Linked DNA regions of Homo sapiens: region 1 is linked to region 2. The links come from fine-mapping of genetic effects on gene expression. Tissue or cell type: sun-exposed skin. Region 2 holds a variant in brackets; the other region holds the start of a gene. All regions are shown on one strand. Distances are between the middles of the regions.

Evidence for each region. PIP is the estimated chance that this variant, and not a neighbour inherited with it, causes the effect.
Region 1: it holds the start of SLC2A1, and the variant in region 2 is fine-mapped to the expression of SLC2A1 in sun-exposed skin (GTEx, PIP above 0.99). The same link has a PIP of 0.9 or more in unexposed skin.

What each region holds. Positions count from the first base shown.
Region 1 is chr1:42,953,905-42,964,546 of GRCh38, reverse strand. It overlaps SLC2A1 (solute carrier family 2 member 1), which reads left to right and starts at 5,679. Exons shown (of 10, transcript NM_006516.4): 1 at 5,679-5,913. The coding sequence starts at 5,896. It overlaps SLC2A1-DT (SLC2A1 divergent transcript), which reads right to left and starts at 5,498. Exons shown (of 4, transcript NR_033967.1): 1 at 4,970-5,498. RefSeq lists silencers at 1,575-1,869, 5,323-5,506, 5,379-5,788, 5,919-6,558 and enhancers at 8,836-9,125, 10,477-10,642.
Region 2 is chr1:43,002,870-43,013,511 of GRCh38, reverse strand. No RefSeq gene overlaps it. Among named protein-coding and RNA genes, the nearest start is that of SLC2A1-DT, 49 kb to the right of the region's middle. RefSeq lists enhancers at 3,737-4,444, 4,445-5,153, 5,154-5,861 and a silencer at 4,630-4,924. The variant G/A (reference allele first, on the strand shown) is at 5,930.

The DNA.
Region 1 (10,642 bases), 49 kb after region 2:
CCAGCCTGGCAACAGTGAGACTCCATCTCAAAAAAAGAAAAAAAAAAGAAAATAGAGAAATACTTATTTCATAGAGTTGCTGTTGGAATTAAATTAACTGAAATGTTGTATTCCTTCATTCAACAAAAATGTAGGAGACCCAGTGTGAGGCAGGTGCTGTTTTTGGTGCTGGGGACACTGGAAGAAGCAGATGGAGACACTCCCTTGGAATTACAGAAATATTTTAAGTAAAAAAAAAAAAAAAAAAAAATTCAATTTGGTTAATTGAAGCAAAATATGCATTCAGAAGAGTACGAAAATCAGAAATGTACACACCTCAATGCATTTTCACAAACTAAACACACCCGCAACCAGCACCCTGATGAGGAAACAACATTACCAACACGGTCAGAAACAGGGTGTCACAAGAAAGGCACTCACCTCCCCTGTAAAATTTAAGCAGGGGTGGAGGGGGGTAGAGGGGGGCGGCGGACTCTGTCATCAGGATAAATAATATTTTTAATGCAGTATTTTTGAAAAACCAGAATTAATGCAAAAAATCCATGATGACAAAATATCAAAATTTTAAATAAAAACAGGATTAGTAACATGCTGTGCTGAGTCATATTAAAGCTCGAGGCAAAAGGAAAAAACATCAGTACTGCTGATCTGGTCTCCACCTGCCTCACCCTGATTACCAGCACCCGCCCCCAGAGTCGCGACCCTCCCTTCCAAGGGTAACTACTGTTACCCCGGAGATAAGTTTTGCCTGTTTTTAAACTTTATACACATGACATCACACTCTTTCGCACAGCTGCTATCACTCAATATGTCTGTGAGATTCAGCCACATTATTGCGTGCCATGGAAAGATGTTTGAACAAAGCAGTGATGTGGTCAGCTGTGCATTTTAAAGAGACCAGTGTGGTGGCAGGGAGGAGGATGAATGAATAGTGGTCCTAGCCTATGCTGGAGGAGGGACTGTCTGCATGGAGAGGGCAGGCAGAGTCCACGGGATGGGCAGGCAAAGTCCACGGGATTGACTGGATATGGGGAATGAGGGAGACAGAGAGGGGTCAGGGAAGATACCAGATCTCTGGCTAGGGCAATTTGGTGGCTAGAGGAGCCATTTCTAGGGTGGGGACAGGAAGGGATGGGCAAAGATAATGAGTTCAGGTTTGAGCATGGTGAGTGTGAGGGACCTGTGGGACATCCAGAGGGACATCCTGGAGGCAGCTGGACAGAAAAGCCTGGTAGTCAGGAGAGAAGGGAGGGGAGTATGTGCCTTCAATTCCCCCAGCATCAGCGAGCAGGTGGTAGCCCTGATAAGTGCATTTGCAGAGGGTCGGAGGGCATACAGAAGATAAAGAAGGGATGCCGAAAAGCTTTCTGAAAGCAGGTGGTTCAAGCAGATGTGCAAATCAGAATGAAAACATTAAACACACAAAACTGTCCTGCCTGGCCCATCAGACCTTCCTGGAATCCATCACTGTGTTTACCTGCAATCCAGGAGGATTTGAATTGCAAAACACCCTTTGGATTAGGGGGGCTTCCGTCCCAGCCCCTGCTATCCCCTCTTGTACCAATTGTAGCTGACTCAGCAAAACCTTTCCTCCTGGCTGCCAGGGACGCTTGCCTTTAAAGGCAACAGAGTCTTTTCCCAGCCCGCCTTACTCACTCCTAACTCTGGAGCTGCTAGGACCCGCCCTGCACGGCCCTGCCACCACCACCATCACCACCACCACCCCTCCCCCACCCACTTGCGTGCTCTGAGGCACACACTAGGCTCCAGCATCCGCCTGGCACCTGACACCTCCCTGCTAGCCAGTCCCAGAGAGCTCTTTTCCTCCAGACTAGCTGGGGCTGGAACTGCTTAGAATCGGACCCAGAAGAGGCCGAGTTCCGTCCAGGACTAAAGGCAGCCTCCAGGGAATAAAGCTGTCAGTGTGGGCGCAGACTAGGGAAGGGGCACTAGGTCGTTCAAGCTGAATGCTGGGGTTCCACAGCCTCCTCACACCCCCTTTAGTGCCTCAGGTAGAGTAGGCTTGTGGGGACACTGAGGTTTCCTCAGGTCCTTTCCCTGCTCAATAACTCTCCATGGCTCGCCACTACCCACTGCATAAAGCCCTAACTCCTATACCTGGCATTTGGGAGCCTCTGTGATTCCACTTCTTCAGTCTCTTCTCCTCCCTAAGCCCCCATGCCCCAGCCACAGGGGCTACTTAGGTGCCCCTCCTGCTCCCCTTTCCCCTTGCACCCAAACCTTCTCTGCTCATGTGCTATTTCCTGGGGCCTTCTCTAGGGCTCATTCCCTAGTTGGAGTTAAATTCTGCTTCCAAGGAATCAGCCACCCAAATAACAAACCAGTCCACCTGAGAATCTAGTCTGTGATGCAGCGTCAATAGCTTCTGATGAATTTGCTTCTGACCAGTAGCCTCCAGGGGTCATAAAACATTCACAGAGAGGAACACAGAGAAGGTAATGGGGGTCTGTGTGTGGGCAGGTGGGGTGGGGTGGGTGAAGGAAAAGCTTTTTTTTGGCCACTGTGCTTTTTCCTCAAGCACCGCCCTACCATGGGATGGGGATTTGACTGAACTTCTCACGTCAAGAATGAGTACAGTTTACATAGCTAAGCCTTTATAAACATCCACTTTCCCTCAGGCCTACCCAGGAAGGGTTTGTTATATCTATTTTACAGATGTGGGTCTTCAGGCTCAGAGAAGAGAAGGCATTGTTTGCCCATGAATGTTTGCAAGTAAATAGCAGAGCTGGGACTCAAAGAGTCCGGATCTGGGGCTCCATCATGAATCTCTAAGAGTGGCCCAGAGATTCTCACGTTCCCTAGGTAATCATTCTGGCAGTCTGCTGCCTTTGCACATGCTCTTCTCTCTGCTGAGAATGGCCTTCCCTCAATCCATCTGGTGAACTCCTATTCAGTCTTCCAAACCCTGCTTAGCATGACCTCCCCCTTCCCAGATGCTCTCTCTACTCACTCTCCTTCCCCTGTGGTACAAGTTCTGCACCTGTACAGATTCTTAACCCTCTACGCTTGACTTGGTATTGTTGCTGCTCATTTCCCCTCTTGCTCCTCCTCCAGCTTGGGGCCTCCATGAGGCTAACAATGGGGTCACATGTCTCTGTCCCTGGGAAAGTGGCCAGCATGGGGCTGGCCCAGAGAAGGACAAGGTGGCTGTTTGGTGAGTGTGACCCATGGGCTGAGTAAGGCAGACCCGCAACTGGGAAAAGGCATAGACTGGATGTGCTAAGAAACAAGGAGCTGTGGAGAGACTTTGAGGAGGGAAGTAGCAAAACCCAAAAGGTACTTAAGGAAAGACTGGAAGTATCAGCAGGACGGACTGGAGGGGAAGGAACATTCAACACAGGTAGATTAGCTGCTCACTCATTCGTGCATTCCTTCCCTCCTTCAGTCATTCACCCACGTGCCTCAGCTGCAGAACCTGTCCTCAAGGTGCTCACAGGCTGAGGGAAGGCAGACAGAGGACAAGTGGCAACCTACAAAACACCAAATGGTAAAGGAGAGAAAGATTTCCACTTGGGAGAACCAGGGACACTTCCCGGAGGAGGAAGGACCCATGGTGCTTTTTGGCATGGTGAGGTCGGGGAGGGCTTCCCAGGCAGAGGAGACAAGCTGAGCAAATGTGTGGATGTGAGTTGCTGGTGTGAGGGGCGAGGCTGAGCGTGTAAACTGGTGCCATGAAGAAGGACCGTGATGGCCAGGCTTGGCCCTTACTCCCTCCATGACAATTTCAGACAGATGAGCAGGAGAGTGGCAGGGTGCAGGACTGGAGGACAAAAGACCAGAGGAGATGGAGGCCCTGCAGACAGCAGGGGAGGGAAGGAGGATGAGGTGGTGTAGACAGCGGAGTCAGCAGGACTTGGTCTGTCCAGGGGTGAGGAGAGAGGTGGCCCAAGCTTTCCAGGCTGAGCATAGAGAGACCACAGGAATTGAAGCCTTGGGCAGGGGGGTGCCCAGAATGCACCTGCCTTCTGTTTCAGGGCTCCATACTCAACCAAGGTGCCCCTCAGCCAGAACTGGACACATTGCCAGAGAACTCCAGGGGTCATCTGGTCGGCTCAGCCTCCCGGTTTCCGACAGACAGTAAGCCCACCATGACTCCCTCCATCGGGAAAGGGACCCTCAAGACTTTGATCAGACCTTTGGACTGGGGGTCCTTCCCTTCACTGTGTCTCAAGTAAGGCACTGGTCTAGAGGAAATAAGGTGAAGTCAGATGATAGCAATACCACTACCAGTGCAGTGGCACATGCCTGCACTCCCAGCTACTACGGAGGCTAAGGTGGGAGGATCACTTGAGCCCAGGAGTTTGAGACCAGCATTTATTTATTTACTAACAGACTAAATAAATAAACCAACAATACCACCAACCAGTAAATGAGAACTTCCATGCTAAACACTTCATGAGCTTATCTGGAAATTGCACCTCTCCTGATAGCAATGAGATTGGTGTGGGAATTCCATTTACTCATAAGAAGACAGCCTCGGCCGGGCTCAGTGGCTCACGCCTGTAATCCCAGTACTTTGGGAGGCGAGGTGGGTGGATCACGAGGTCAAGAGTTCAAGACCAGCCTGGCCAAAATGGTGAAACCCCGTCTCTACTAAAAATAAAAATAATTAGCCAGGGGTGATAGCGGGCGCCTGTAATCCCAGCTACTCGGGAGGCTGAGGCAGAGAACTGCTTGAATCCGGGAGGCGGAGGTTACAGTGAGCCGAGATCGTGCCGCTGCACTCCAGCCTGGGCGACAGAGCGAGACTCTGTCTGAGAAAAAAAAAAATTAAAGAAAAAAACGAAAACAGCCTCACTGGCCAGGAACTCGCCCAGGATCGCGGCCGGGCCAGTATACAGTTGAGCTGGTTCAAACCCGAGGTCTATCATGTCCTTAATGTCCTATCATGTCAGTCAGTTAGCCTGCCTTTCATATTTTCCACACTTACAGGTCACCATAGACTCACCTGAACTGTGAGAAGTAGAGGAAGGCGTCCCAGAGGAGGTGATTTTAAAGCCCAGGTTTGAGATGGGTATGCATTTCCAGGCAAGAGAGCCCGGCCGGTGCAAAAGCAAGGCTTGGCTCACAAACGGGAATGTGGGGGGTGGAGACAGGGAAGGGAGAAGTCAATCCCTGGGCAAGACCTCCTGGAGTCTCTCTAACAAATAAATACTACTTTCCATGCAGTAGACGCTGTTCTAAACACTTTACAAATATTAACTCACTTGGTCTTTCTACAACCCTACGAGGTGGTACTGTTACTATCCCTAGTGCACCGAAGTCACCCAGCGGCCGAGTGAGAACTCCAGTCCAGCTTTCCACCCGCTACTCCGCGCATCCCAGCTTGCCTTACAGCCGGGTACCGGCTCCACCATTTTGCTAGAGAAGGCCGCGGAGGCTCAGAGAGGTGCGCACACTTGCCCTGAGTCACACAGCGAATGCCCTCCGCGGTCCCAACGCAGAGAGAACGAGCCGATCGGCAGCCTGAGCGAGGCAGTGGTTAGGGGGGGCCCCGGCCCCGGCCACTCCCCTCACCCCCTCCCCGCAGAGCGCCGCCCAGGACAGGCTGGGCCCCAGGCCCCGCCCCGAGGTCCTGCCCACACACCCCTGACACACCGGCGTCGCCAGCCAATGGCCGGGGTCCTATAAACGCTACGGTCCGCGCGCTCTCTGGCAAGAGGCAAGAGGTAGCAACAGCGAGCGTGCCGGTCGCTAGTCGCGGGTCCCCGAGTGAGCACGCCAGGGAGCAGGAGACCAAACGACGGGGGTCGGAGTCAGAGTCGCAGTGGGAGTCCCCGGACCGGAGCACGAGCCTGAGCGGGAGAGCGCCGCTCGCACGCCCGTCGCCACCCGCGTACCCGGCGCAGCCAGAGCCACCAGCGCAGCGCTGCCATGGAGCCCAGCAGCAAGGTGAGTCGCGCGCCCGCGGGCCCTCCCGCCAGGAACAAAGGCGCAGACTCCTGCCCGCCTTACGCCGGCCAGGGCCTCCCCCGCCGCCCCGCTGCGCTGTGCGCCCGGGGCGGGCCGCGCGCCTCTCCGAGCCTGGCTCGGTGCGGGTCCCGAGCGCAGCGCCCCGCCGGGCCGCTGGCCGCAGTGGGGATGGGCTTCGGATCTAGCGGGCCGGAGGGCGCCGCGTGCGTAGTTGGCGCCGGCACTGAGCACATGGCCTCCTTCCGGGGGCGCCGCGCCGTCCACGCGGCCCTGCTGGGGCTGGGGACACAGGGCCCGGGAGCGGCACGTCGCACACGACCTCGGCAGCAGCAGCCCAGCCTCGGCCCCTCCCGGTGCGGGGGAGGGGGCCCGAGCGCGGCGCCCATTGGCTGAGCGGGCCGAGCCCCCGGCCCGGCCCCGGCCCCGGCGCGCGGAGGAGTCAGGAGCCGCCCCCGCTCTCCGTCTGCTCCCCTAGCCCGGACGCCCCTGTAGGTGGGCGGCCTGGTGCGAGGTGTCCCACCGGCCTCCCCTACTCCTCCCGCCAGTCCCCCGCGGTGACGAGGCCGAGGCCGAGGGGAGGGCACTTTTCTCCAGGCCCGGGCTCGAACGCGGGGGTTGAGATGAACCTCCGGTCTCGGAGGCTCTCCTTTGCGAGGAGTGCAGGCCCCAAAGCTTTGGCCCAGTCTCGCGGAGATGTGTTCCGCGGAGGCAGGTTTACCCTCGGGGCCAGGCGGGGAGCGCAACCGGAGGGGCGGGGGATCTGGGGGCCAGGAAAGAGCCCCAGGCTGAAGTCTAGCGGGAAGCGCGCACGCCACGGGGTTGGGGAATGAGGGATGGGGACTCTGGGGACCAACAACTCCCTAGATAGGATTTCTTTTTTTCTGTGTAAGTGGGCTTGTCCTGCAGGGCATCTTTGTAGCGTCCGCAGAGCGATTTCTTTTCAACAAATTGTTTGTGGAGCCCCTCCTGTGTGTAGGGCATTGTTTCTTTCCACCTCCTTTCCTCCCCCTAGTCTACAATATTTTCAAGTCCCCTTTTTCTTTTGAAACGGTCCCTCTTTATCTATTATACTTTGATTTTTCCATCTCGTCAGCTGGGAGGGCACCTGGATGGCCCTTGTTTTCTTAGCTGGGACGCGGGGGTAGCACTGAATTTTGAACTGCCCTTCCTACTGGCTGTGGAGGTGTCCCGCTGAGACTGAGCGGGGTGGCGCTGGGCCGCACCCTCGGCAGGAAAAGGCCTTCCGCCCCACACCTGTTGAATCCATAAATCCAGACGACTTGGTTCACCCTTCCTGGGCCCTCGCTTGAGGTGAGACCCCGGGGAAGTTCCCGGGGAAGGCTCCCAGGATCTTAGGTGAGCCGTAAGGGTGGGATATAACTAAACAAAAGTTCAGTGAGAAGCTCTTCTAGCTAGTGGCAAGGAAGTCCAAATATCTCAGGGCTCTTGCAGGCCACTTAACTTCTGGGCCTCAGTTTTTCCATCTGAAAGAGATCACTTTTGTCACTTCCTCTAGGGAAGGAACTATCTATTCAGCATACTATGCCAGACATGGGTATTTATTTGTTGAGTGGATAAGGGAATACTACGTGGAGACAGAAAAGTGGAGGAGAAAATCAGCAGGTTCTTAGCCAAACTACTTTAAGCGTCACGGACCTTATAGCCCTGCTGGTTACTCACTAGCCTGGAGCTCAGAGAAGGGAAATAAGTTTGCCAAAGTCACACAGCTAGTAAGTGGTTGAACTGGATTTGAACCCAGGCCCATCAGATTTAATTTCATTTCTGTCTCCACTGTCTCTCTTCACCACAACATTTCTTGAATTTTGGGCAGAAGGGAGAGAGTTTGCCTATCTTCAAAGGTGGCCCCTTGTGCCAGCTGGTTCTAAATAGTGTAGCAGGTGGGTGCTCTTCATGGAGTGTTCTCCAAGTTTTCCACTGTCTACCTCGTCAGTAATTAATGTTGGAACACCTCTTTCACAGTGGTGTATCTGTATTTTTATTTTTTTATTTTTATTTATTTATTTTTTGAGACGGAGTTTCGCTTTTGTTGCCCAGGCTGGAGTGCAATGGCGCGATCTCAACTCCCTGCAACCTCTGCCTCCCGGGTTCAAGCGTTTCTTCTGCCTCAGCCTCCCGAGTAGCTGGAATTACAGGCATGTGCCACCACACCCAGCTAATGTTTTTTTTTTTTTTTTTTTTTTTTTTGTAGTTTTAGTAGAGACGGGGTTTCTCCATGTTGGTCAGGCTGGTCTCGAACTCCCGACCTCAGATGATCTGCCCGCCTCGGCCTCCCAAAGTGCTGGGATTACAGGCCTGGGATTACAGGCGTGAGCCACCACGCCCGGCTGTATTTTTAAATTCATGCACATGCAGTTTGATACTAACAGATGATATGCCTTCATAAAATAGAAATTTCAAAAGACAGATAGATACAAGACAGCAGTTATAGTCATTTTCCCCTCCAAATCTTGTGTAGATCATTCCATATACATTCTGGAATAAAGCCCTTCCCTTTGGAGACTGCTGATTTGACCTGCAAGCACAGCCTTTTTGTGCATGATGTTAGAGGCCTGGGGAGGTCATATCGCTTGCCTTTCACACAAGATCTGAAAACCAGGTGTGTCTGGCTCCAAAGCCTTGGTTCTGCTATGTTCCTCTTTGTCTCCTAGGAAATGGGAACTGACTTAACTAACTTCCCCGTGTTCCATTGTGCTCCTCTGTAACTCACAGTAATGAGCTTAGCTGAATAGGAAGTAGGGGACAGATGGAATCACCTTGCCTACAAGCCAGGGGTTCGCCCACGATCTCTCCTGGGCAGCACGCAAGGGTGAGCCCTGCCCCAGATGTCTCACCCCACCCTTCGTGAAGAACTTGTAACTAGCCTTGCCTATGCCCATCACTCATCACTTTTCTGGCCAGTCTCTACCTTCCAGAAAAGGAAAAATCAGAAATCTGCAGGCTTTCTCAGCCCCTTTGTGGTGCAGACAGCATAGTTTTTTGTTTTTTGTCTTTTTTTGAGACGAGGTCTCACTCTGTCACCCAGGCAAGTATCTTGGCTTACTGCAACCTCTACCTCCCAGGCTCAAGCGATTCTGTCACCTCAGCCTCTTGAGTAGCTGGAACCACAGACATGCGTCACCGTGCCCAGCTAAATTTTTGTATTTTTGGTAGAGACAGGGTTTCGCCATGTTGCCCAGGCTGGTCTCGAACTCTTGAGCTCAGGTGATCCGCCCACTTCAGCCTCCCAAAGTGTTGGGATTACAGGCGTGAGCTACCGCACCCGGCCAAACATAGATGTTTGCATATGTGGTTTTGAATCCCAGCTTAGCTTAGTTGCCCAGTTTTCATCATTACAGTGTCTAGGAATTCAGAAAAGAATGTACGTCTCTGTCCCCATAGATGCTCCATAAATATTTCTTGCTTCCTTGGACTCCCATGATGCCTTACCTGGGCTGTGGGTGACTTGTACCTGGGCCTTGGCCTTTATCCAAAAGCTGGCATTCTGGCAGTATGAGCTTTTGGGGAGTCAGGATGCTGGCCCATGGGTATTAAGTCAGGTAAATCATTAAAGCTCCCACTAACCCATTCTTCCTAGTAGGGGCTTGTTGGGAAGTGAGTAGGCATGGCACATGGGTGAGAGTGCCAGGCCAGGGAGGGTCAGCTCATGTGAGTGCCCTGCGCTGCTTTGGGCTTCTTTGCTTTGCTTTTTTGCCTTAGGCTTCCTGCCTACCTTTCTGAATTTGGGTCACCCTTGGGATAGTTTGAAAGGGACATTCATGTCCATTAACTCCAAGGGTCCTCACAACTGCCCTGTGATACAAGTTACAGTGACCTCATGGTCCAATAAAAAATGACTTTGCCAAGATCACACACTGAGCCTCCCACCCCAAGACATGCTGCCAGCCTTTCCAGGATGACATTAGAGGGTGGAAGGAACCCAGAGCAGGAGGGGCCTTCCAGCCATGGCCCAGCCCTCCATTTGACAAATGGGGAAATTGAGTCCAGAGAAGGGAAGAGATTTGTCCGAGATAAGGCTATCACAAAAGATTTGAGGCGTTCTATGGAGCTGTGTTTTGTTTTGATTTTTGAGACGGAGTTTCGCTCTTGTTGCCCAGGCTGGAGTGCCATGACACAATCTCAGCTCACCACAACCTTCGCCTCCCAGGTTCTAGTGGTTCTCCTGCCTCAGCCTCCCGAGTAGCTGGGATTACAGGCATGTGCCACCATGCCCGGCTAATTTTTTTGTATTTTTTTTTAGTAGAGATGGGGTTTCTTCATGTTGGTCAAGCTGGTCTCGAACTCCAGACCTCAGGTGATCCGCCCACCTCGGCCTCCCAAAGTGCTGGGATTACAGGTGTGAGCCACCGCGCCTGGCCTAGCTGTGTTTTTTTTTTAAAGATGCTTTCTTCTCCACATGCCTGTCTGTGCCATCCTCCACCCACCCCAAATGAGCAGGAATCCCCAGACACAGGACTTGCCATGCCATAGGAGCCTGAAAGTTGGATTAGACGTAACTTGACAACTGAAACTCTACTGTGAATGGAAACAAAACACTAGATGTTCCCACTAAACTCTGACCTTGAAGAAGTGGCTTTCCTTGGAGCCTTGGTTTCCTTCTCAGTAAATAGAGACTTGGCTACCCCCAGTGGATGTGGTGAGACTGGCCCCGTGCCCTAAATTAGAGAAGTGGCTATTTTAAGTGGAAAGA
Region 2 (10,642 bases):
ACCATGGCTTACCTGGACCCTACAACAGGCTCCCCCTGCCTGCTGGCCTTTCCAGTCCATCCTCCAAATGGCTACCCCATGATCTTCCTAAATCACAAAGATGATCCTCTTGCTCACCTCTTTAAAGATGTCTGTTGGCTTCTCCACTTCTGCTGGGTAAAGCACGAACTGGCATTCAAGGCCCTTGATGATCTGCCTCTGGCCATATTCTCCAGCCTTATCATGACCGCATGTATTCCACCCTCCAGCCACACCTATGATTTGCCATTTCACAAATGCCCCCCACCTTCATCTAGGTTGTTTATTCTCCTTCCCACCAGTGTCCACTTGAAGCCAGCTCAGGTATCTCCCCCTGCAAGAAGCTCTCCTGACCCTCCTTCCCATGAGTTAACTTCTCCACGTGTGCTCGCCCCCACTTCTCTCATCTGCTCACACTGTATGGTGATAGTCTACCTGCCTGTCTACCCACTAGTTGGTGCAGGGACATGTCTGGGTTCCCAGAGTGGAATCCAGGACCTCACACATGCTCTGTACTCAGTTAATGTTTCCTGGACTGTGCTGAATTGTCACAGTGTGAACCAAGCTGCCATCATTTGCAGTTTACAAATTCATTGCACCATTATTTTTCCACTCTTCTTCATGACACATAGTCAGCTCAAAATATCTTTACACAGCAAGTTTTTTTTTTTTTTCACCTTTGCATTAGATACTTGGAATATACTCCCCAAACTGGTTTCTCTTGGTCAGGGGTTGTACTTAAGTGTGTGGTTTTTATTAGAACTGCTAAATAGTTCTCCAGAAAGATTGTGTTTATTCACATCACCACTATGTATACAGGAAAGGTATGATACCTTTCCTCATCCATCATAAGGTTATTCTTTTTTTTTTTTTTTTTTGAGACGGAGTCTCACTCTGTCACCCAGGCTGGAGTGCAATGGTACGATCTCGGCTCACCGCAAACTCCGTCCCCCAGGCTCAAGCGATTCTCCTGCCTCAGCCTCCCAAGTAGCTGGGATTACAGGCATGCACCACCACACCTGGCTAATTTTGTATTTTTAGTAGAGACAGGGTTTCTCCATGTTGGTCAGGCTAGTCTTGAACCCCTGACCTCAGGTGATTCACCCGCCTCAGCCTCCCAAAGTGCTGGGATTAGAGGCGTGAGCCACCATACCAAGCAAGGTTATTCTTATAATAAAAGACAGATAAACAAGAAAAAAGCACAACAAATTTATTGAATCAAAGTTTTACATGACATAGGAGCCTTCAGAAATAAAGACCCAAAAGCCTAGAGAAAACTGTGTTTTGTGTTTAGGTTCAATGAGGAATGAACAGCCATGTGGAGATGTGATTGGACAAAGGGGCATGACCTCATGGTAATAGACTGAGCAGGGAGATCCAGCAAAGCCTATCCAGATTCTTTTTGGTCTCCTTGCGAAGCATTCCTTCCTGCAGTGTATGGGGCAGGACTGCTCTGGGATGAGGGTCTTCAAGGGGCAAGGGAAAACAGAGAGTGTAACCTTTCTAGATTTTATGGCTGGCTTAGGGGGAGAGAGGTTCTAGTTTCTATGACGTGCTTTGGGGAATAGGAATTCTGTTTTCTCTGATTTGCTTCAAGGGAGAAAGAGGAGCGGGAGACACAGGGCCTGGATATTTTGCTTCTCTTTGAGTTCAAGTACTCAGCATGCCAAAGTGCCATACATTGGGCTATCACGTTCTGAGCCTCAACACCTGCAACACTGCCAGCAGTGGGTTTTACTATTTTTTCATTCATATTTGCTACTTTAACGGGCATGCAGAGGTGATGGTCTCTTCCTTCAGGGAGGCTTCTATAATTCTAGAGAGACAGCTATGGTAGGGTGTGACAAGTGCCATAACAGAGGGGTGGGGTGTGGAGGGTAGCAGAGGAGACTGTGGGAGCCCAGGATGGCAGGGAGAGTCTAATCCAAGTTGTGGGGCTGAAGGAAAACTTCCTAAAGGAGAGGCCAGCTACCTCAGACTAATCAGGCTGATGCCTCCCACTGCCTCCGGTCTTCTATAGCATTCTTACTGCCATTGGCTTTCCTCATCTTATCTCTATCTTCTAGCTACAACAACTCAATGGGAATAGATACTTTTCCCATCTCACAAATGAGGAAACAGAGGCTCACAGGGACCACACAGCTAGAGACGGGGCTAGAACTCAAACCCAGCTCTATGTGATGTCCTTGGGCCAGTGCTCTTCCAGCCGTCCATGTTGATAAGGAACAAGGGACAGATAAGATACTTCCTAGGGATGACCAACCCGGGGAAGGGACTTTTTAGCAATTACCCTCATTCACTACAACCCTGGAGGGTGAGTAATGTCAGCCCCAGTCTATGAAGTCTAAACAACCTCCCCAAGGTCACACTGTGGTGCAAGATAGACTCTCATCCCTACAGAGGACTTCCCCTCCCTGCCACACCCATTTGAGAGGGAGCAAAATTTATGCCCCTCCCCTCTCAATTCATAAGTTGAAGTCCTAATCCCTTGTACCATAGAATATGACCTTATTTAGAGACAGGGTCTTTACAGAGGTAATCAAGTTAAAATGAAGCCGTTAGGGTGGACCCTAAACCAATATGATTGGTATCCTTATAAAAAGGGGACATTTGGGGCCAAGCGCGGTGGCTCACGCCTGTAATCCCTGCACTTTGGAAGGCCGAGGCTGGCGGATCACCTGAGGTTGGGAGTTTGAGACCAGCCTGACCAACATGGTGAAACCCCGTCTCTACTAAAAATACAAAATTAGCCAGGTGTGGTGGCATGCACCTGTAGTCCCAGCTACTTGGGAGGCTGAGGCAGGAGAATCCCTTGAACCCAGGAGGCAGAGTTTGCAGTGAGCCGAGATGGCGCCTCTGCACTCCAGCCTGGGCAATAACAGCGAAACTCCATCTCAAAAAAAAACATACACAAAAAACAAACAAAAAAAATGGCTAGGGGGCACAGAAATTTGGACAAGGAGATGGACGAGCATAGAGGAAAAAAGATGGGAAGAGACACAAGAAGAAACAAGACAAAGAACATGGGAAGCTACCAGAATTCACCTGGCATGTTCCATACCAGAGAGGCATGGAACGGATTCTCCCTTACAGCCCTCCGAAGGAACTAACCCTGCCAATACCTTAATGTAAGACTTCCAGCCTCCAGAACTGTGAGATAATACATTTTTGTTGTTTAAGCCCCTTAATTTGTAGTACTTTGTTATGGAAACCCCAGTAAATTAATAAAGGGAAAACTGCCACCCACCCCCAAAACAGGGGATCCTGAAGATATTTTTGAACAAATAATTTTTGTGATTTCAAATTTGGTAATGTCTTCATTATATTTTTTATTGAAGAAAATTGGGGCCAGGTGTGGTGGCTCACCCCTGTAGTCCCAGCACTTTGGAAGGCCAAGGCAGGTGGATCACCTGAGATCAGGAGTTTGAGACCAGCCTGACCAACATGGTGAAACCCCGCCTCTACTAAAAACACAAAATTAGCTGGGCGTGTTGGCGGGCACCTGTAATCCCAGCTACTTGGGAGGCTGAGGCAGGAGAATTGGACCTGGGAGGCGGAGGCTGCAGTGAGCTGCGATGGCGCCACTGCACTCCAGACTGGGCAATGAGAGTGAAACTTGTCTCAAAAAAAAAAAAAAAAGAAAATTGGGAAAAGATTAGAAAGAATGAAGGAAAAAAGTAAAAACACATGCCCTCTCCCCTTGCTGTTAACATTTTGTTGCATTTCCTCGCATATATATTTCTTTGAATATATATATTCAATATATACATTATATATGCAAAATATATGTATTCAATATATATCTATTTTTTTTTCATGCAGTTACTAGAATCTTCTTTCCAGGGCTGCTGTGATGCTCGAATGGGAGATTGGGATTGGCTCCCAGTCCAGCACCATGCATGGTAGATATTATTTATACAGTTACTGTATAAAATTGGAGTCATGCTGTTTTACAACTTCCTCTTTTCACTTACCAGCTTATCTTCAGTGTTTCCCATGTCTTTCATATTCTTCAAGAACATGACAGTTAATTTCTGCAGTCTTCAGTCTGCGAATGAGGCATAACCTACTTACCCAATTCCCTGTCATTGAACATTTAGAGAATTTCCAGTTTTTCCCAGTTATAAATAAGACTGGGATAAATAATCTTTTATTTTAGGATATGCCCCAGAAACAGAATTGCTAAGTCAAATTCTAATTCTTTTAAAGGCTTTTGTACATACTGTGACATGTTCCTGCAGAAAAGTGGTACAATTTACCTCCTTAGCAGTGAAAAAAGCACTCCCTTTCCCACACCTCACCAACATCTGGTGTTTTCACTTCTATTATCTTGACCAGTTCTATAGATAGGAAAAAGCATACTCTTTTTTTTCATTTGTACTTTGGGATTTCTAGCGTTTTCACAGGTTTTTGTATTTCTTCAGTGAACTACGTTAATCATCCTTTGCGTGTGTCCACTGGTCAGTTCCTCTTATTGTTAAGGGTTTAGCAGGACTTGAAAGGGCCGCTGCAGATGGGAGCCCACGGGCAGCTTCCTCCCCACCCTTCTGACCCTCCTCCTCCCACATTCCCATCCTCTAGAGCTTTCCTTTGCTCTCCAGGGAACCTTTGTCATTCAAACAGGCCGCTGCTTCCCAGGGCCCTGGGAAAGCCACCTCCGGAGGCCCTCTCCACTTTTGACTGCTTTCCCTCCGGAGCCCCACATTCCTGCCTCACCTCTCCCCACGCCCTGCACATCCTCCCTCGAAATTCTTCAAGGAGGCCCAAAGCCACAGGGGACCCAGCCCCTGGCCTAGCCCTAGAGCAAGAATCCCAACCCCGCCCTGCTCCAGCTTGAAAGCAGGAGAGACGGGGCTAGGTGGGGAGGAACATCTGTCCTTGGGGGAAGGCCTGGGAGAGAAAGGCCACAGCACGCGGTGGAAGAAAGAACCCGTCTTTGATGTCTTGTGAAGTCTGACGTCATTCTAGAACCAAGGTCAAATCCCAGGCCAGCCACTTTCGGGCCACATCGCATCACTAGTTTGCAGGGCTGCAGTGAAGGTCAAATGTAACTTACATGTAATGCTTCTGGAACAAAAAGTCAGGTGAACTGATTACCGCAAAGCCCCAAGGATCAGGCACGGCTTCTCCAGGAGAGATGGCCCTTGGAGAGGCCGGCTTTGCCCTAGTGGCTGGAGAGTGTATCCGGCAGAAGGGGCAGCCTAGGAAAAGGCTGGGAGGCCAGGGGTACCGGGTGTGCAGTGTGGCTGGGCATGGACACGCGAATGAAGGGCCTCAGGGCACACACGGAGTCCCGAGAGGGAAGCTCAGACATCAGCCCAGACGGTGGACGGGACTCCACGCTAGACTTGGGAGACCTCGGTTTCCATCCCTATCGGTCTCCAGCTTCACTCATCCTATCACCCACAGAAGACTTTCCTGGGCGGCCAGGCAGTATGCCGGCCCCACCCAGGACCTGGAGGGGTTCAAAGACAAGCGATCAGGGCAAAGCGGGTGCCCCAGGGAGAGTGATTAAAACTGGGAATCAGCGGAGGCTTCTGAGAAGCAGCCTTTGAACTGGGCCTTAGGGTGCGACTGAGGGTGGGGAAGGCGGCCATTGCAAGCAGGGGGGTCGCAGGGGACGGGAAGGCGAAGTCTGGCTTCTTTGAGGGTGGCCGAGCAAGGAAAGGGGCGAGATGAAGTGGGCGAAGGGCGCTAGGGCCCCGACCCCAAAAGCCCACGCAGGAGAGGGGTGCCAGAGTCCAGCTTCACAAAGACCCGCCTGGAGCTGCCGCAGCCCCAGGCCCGGGAATGTGGGGCGGGGACGGGGAGGGGAGGGGAAGGAGGGGGCCGCGGGCCGGCAGCACGTAGCGCTCGTAGGCCGGGCGCGCCAGGGCAGGTAACAAAGCTGCCAGTGTGCCGGCGGCGGGGC[G/A]GGGCTGCCCGATACCTGTCTGGCGGGGGGCCGGGGCCCCAAAGGGGAGGGCAGCGGGGGCTGCTGGGCACAGTAGGCCGCGGCCTGCGCTCTGCCGAGCCTTCCCCTGCCGCAGCCTCCCCAGCGGAGCCGCAGCCCGAGAAAAGCGACACAGTCGGTTTTGCAGACTAGATGCCCGAAGCCCAGACACTAATAGGGCCTGGCCCGGGGTCGCGCAGGAGTCGTGAGATGCACAGCTCTGTGCCAAGGAGGGCTGGCGAGGAAATCCTCACCCAGGTCCCGGCCACATGCTCGTTCGCTGGGTGGGGCGGGGAGTCTGCCCCAGGCTTCTGAGCGGAGTTGGAATTCGGATGCATGGATATTCGGGTGCACGGCTCTGCGCCCCGTAATTTCTTCTCTAAGAGGCGAGAAGAGTCCCCCTAGACGGGCTGATCTCCAAGTGGCTCTTTCCAACAAGGTTAAAAAGCAGTCTTGTCGGCCGGGCATGGTGGCTCACGCCCGTAATCCCAGCACTTTGGGAGGCCGAGGCGGGCGGATCACGAGGTCAGGAGATTGAGACCATCCTGGCCAGCACGGTGAAACCCTGTCTCTACTAAAAAATACAAAAAATTAGCCGGGCGTGGTGGCGGGCGCCTGTAGTCCCAGCTACTCAGGAGGCTGAGGCTAGAGAATGTTGTGAACCCGGGAGGCGGAGCTTGCAGCGAGCCCAGATCTCGCGACTGCACTCCAGCCTGGGCAACAGAGCAAGACTCCGTCTCAAAAAAAAAAAAAAAAAAAAAAAAAAGGCAGTCTTGTCCACATCAAAGGAAGCGAGGAGGGCTGGCCTGATGGAGGTTGGGGGCCACCAGAGCCTCCGCACCCCATCTGTGGCGTCACCGTCGCGGGTTCCCTACTACAGGATGCCTCCATGGAACTCACTATCCCCGTGCGCGTGCCCGTACGTGTGGTCCCACAGACCTGTCCACGCCTGACCTCACACACGTGCACAGGTCGGCTTGTGCTCCCCACACGCAAGAGATCCTGTCAAGGGGTGCTGGAGAGTGAACCCTAGAATGACCCTTTGAGATCCTTCTTGCTCTTCCCCCACCCCTTTCGCCGGGGTCCTTTGTCCTCTGTGCAGGGCAATCCAGGGGCAGATGGAAGAAAAGAATTGGGTCAGACTCTTAGGGAACAAAGACACTTTGGGAGGGAAGTGTCCTCTCTACTGGAATCAGCTGCCCTCCCCCAGGGACCCCACAGCTCAGTCCTTTGCAGAGGAATCCTCCATCCCCCCACCAAAGCTAACAAATGGGCAAGACCACCCAGGATAGAGAGGGGGAGCAGAGAGCTAAGAGGCCAGGCCCCCATCCCAGCGTTTGGGCGTGGAGGTGGCTGCCTCATTAGTACCGTGGGGCACGGGGTGGCTGATGGCTGTGCTCCAAGGCCCTCAGTCCCGACTGCTTTGGAGCTTATCAGCCGACCTGGGGATAGGGGCCGACATGGCCACGCCCTCTCCCCTACCCTGGCAGCCTGGCCTAGAGCCCCCATTCCTGGAAAGGGAGCCCTGAGAGCAGCAGAGAGAGGCTCTGAGGCGCCGAATAGTCTGGCCCAGTCTCCTCTATGTCAGCTAAAGAGAAATGAGACCAGGCCCCTGCCCTGGAGGTGTCGAGGGCGCTGAGCAACAGGCACAAACACAGATGCAGACGGGCTACAGCCCCAGGTGCTCAGTGCTCAGACCAGTGTTCAGAAAGATTAGATGGATAAGCGGATGAGTGAATGCACGTCCATGAATTCATTTGGATAGAAAACCCTAGGCACTCCCAGGCTGGGGCTTCTTGCAGTTTGTCACTGCTCTGACCCTAGTGTGGTCAGACTGCAGCTCCCCTGGGCCAGGAAACCCTCTGATTCGACTCCCAGCCCAAGGCCTGACATTTACAAGGTAGTCAAGCTGTGCTTCCTGAAAATCCAGAGTAGCATGCTGATGTGTCCACCTCCCCACCAAACAGTACTCCTTGCACGTATCTTCAGGTATGGCTCAGATTCCTTCCCCCGTCTTCCATCCCAATATCCCCTATAGGGTAAGCAAACTGTGACAAAAGACAAATACCAGAATGAAGGCAGGCCTGGTCACTTCTTGGCTATGTGCATCTGAGCAGTCATTTCTCTCTCTGACCCTTAGTTTCCTTATCGGTAAAATGGAGGCAAAGATGCCTTTTCCACTTGATGGGATTGGGGTCACGTGCAGCACTACCCCTCCCCCTCAGCTCCCTCCTCAGCACCCAGGGCTCTTTGTTCAACCTGTACATGCTCTTACCTACTTCTCCCTTTTTATCTGCATCTATACCTGCACTAGTGGCTCCCCAAGGGCGATGGCCTCCATCTCTCTGTGCCACTACTGCCCAGCATTGCCCAACATATGCTTCAGCACATGCCCATGGAAGTCAGTGTTGGTGGAATGGTAAGCAATGAGTGAAAACATTTTGTTAACCAGAGAAGGCTGTGCGAATACGAGGGCTTGTGTCATGATAATATTTTAAATCACAGTAGTTTAGGACTTGAACATAATCTTACAGATTAACTGAGTTCTCCCATTTGACAGATGAGGAAATTGAGGCCCAGAATGTGAAACAGACTGCCAGTGATCACTCACAGAGGTTGTCCAGCTTGGACCTTGATATGCTTTGGCTGTGTCCCCACTCAAATCTCATCTTGAATTGTAGTACTCATAATCCCCACGTTTCATGGGAGGGACTAAGTAGAGATAATTGAATCATGAGGGTGGTTTCCCCCATCCTGTTCTCAGGATAGCATGATAGTGAGTTAGTTCTCATGAGATATGATGGTTTCATAAGGGGCTTCCCCCTTGGCTGGGCACTCACATCTCTCGCCAGAGACCATATAAGACGTGACTGTTTTGCCTTCTGCCGTGATTGTAAGTTTCCTGAGGCCTCCCTAGCCATGCAGAACTGTGAGTCAATTAAACTTCTTTTCTTTCTTTTTTTTTTTTTGAGATGGAGTCTCACTCTGTCGCCCAGGCTGGAGTGCAGTGGCACGAACTTTGCTCATTGCAACCTCTGCCTCCCTGGTTCAAGCGATTCTCCTGCCTCAGGGTCTTGAGTAGCTGGGATTACAGGTGAGCACCACCACGCCCGGCTAATTTTTGTATTTTTAGTAGAGACGGGATTTCACCATGTTGGCCAGTCTGGTCTCGAACGCCTGACCTTGTGATCCGCCTGCATTGGCCTCCCAAAGTGCTGGGATTACAGGCTTAAGCTGCCGCACCTGACCACGTTTTTTCTTTATAAATTACCCAGTCTTGAGTATGTCTTCATAGCAGCATGAAAACAGACTAATACGGACCTCAACTGAAGTATCTTAACTCCCAGGAGAGAGGGGCCTCCCTATAGACACTCCTCTCTGCATGGCTTCAGCCAGTGCAGACAAGGGTAAGCCAGTACTTGGAACCCTGTCTCCCAGTGACTGCCTTCCCCAAGAGATCTGACAGCCATGAATGCATCCGGGGTTCCTGAGGGCCAAAGACAGGGTGCTGTTTTAAAGATGCTGTGAACGCTCAGTGTGCACTTACAGTAGAAGGCAGAGGCAGTGACAGCAGCAAGGCAGAGCTGGAATCTTCACTGTAGGTTTCCCACTGTCATTCCCAGGACAGTGGAATCAGTATGGATTTCAGAGTCACACCAACTTGGCTTTGAATCCTGACTCTGAAACCCATTAGCTGGGCGAGTTTCTTGGGCAAGTTATTTCATCTATGAGCCTCAGTTTCTTCACCCATAATTCCATAATATTGGAATATGAATTCCTATCTGATAATCCAGTTGAGACGACTCAGTAAGAACATAAGCAAAAGCATCTGAGTCCAGAGTAAGAAGACCATCTCTTCCCTTCCTACCTTCAGTTTCCCCTCTACTTCCAGGATGGAATAAGGAAAGATTCCTGGCTGCTGCCCCTTCCACCACAGTCTAGAAGCCATCATAAGGAGGATAGTAGTGTGGGGTGGTGAGGTTTGGGGGAAGCCAAAAGTGGTACCTCAAAAGATATCCACATCATTATGTTGGGCATGGTGGCTCACACCTGTAATCCCAGCACTTTGGGAGGCTGAGGTGGGAGGATCACTTGAGCCTATGAGGTCAAGACCAGCCTGAACAACATAGTGGGCAACATAGTGAGATGCTGTCTCTACAAAAAATTTAGTTATTAGCTGGGTGTGCTGATGGTGCCTGTTGTCCTAGCTACTCAGGAAGTTGAGGCAGGAGGATCACTTGAACCCAGAAGTTCGAGGCTGCAGTAAGCTACGATCGTGCCACTGGACTCCAGCCCGTGTGACAGAGTGAGGCCCTGTCTCAAAAATAAATAAAAGAAAAAAAAAAAGATACCCACAGGAATCCCTGACACCTGTGAGCATTATCTTATATAGCAAAAGATGTGATTAAGTTGAGGTTCTTAAGAGGAGGTGCTTAACCTGAATTGTCCAAGTAGGTCCTAAATGACATTACAGGTGTTCTTATGAGAGAGGAGAGGGACAGACAGAGAGAGGAGAAGACATACCCAAATAGAGGAGAAGGCCATGTGAAGACAGAGTCTAAGATGAGAGTGATAAAGTCACATGCCAAGGAACACCTGCAGCCACCAGAAGCTGGAACAGATAAGGAATGGATTCTCCCCAAGAGTCTGGGGAGGGAGTGGAGCCTTGCTGACACCCTGCTTTCAGACTTTTAG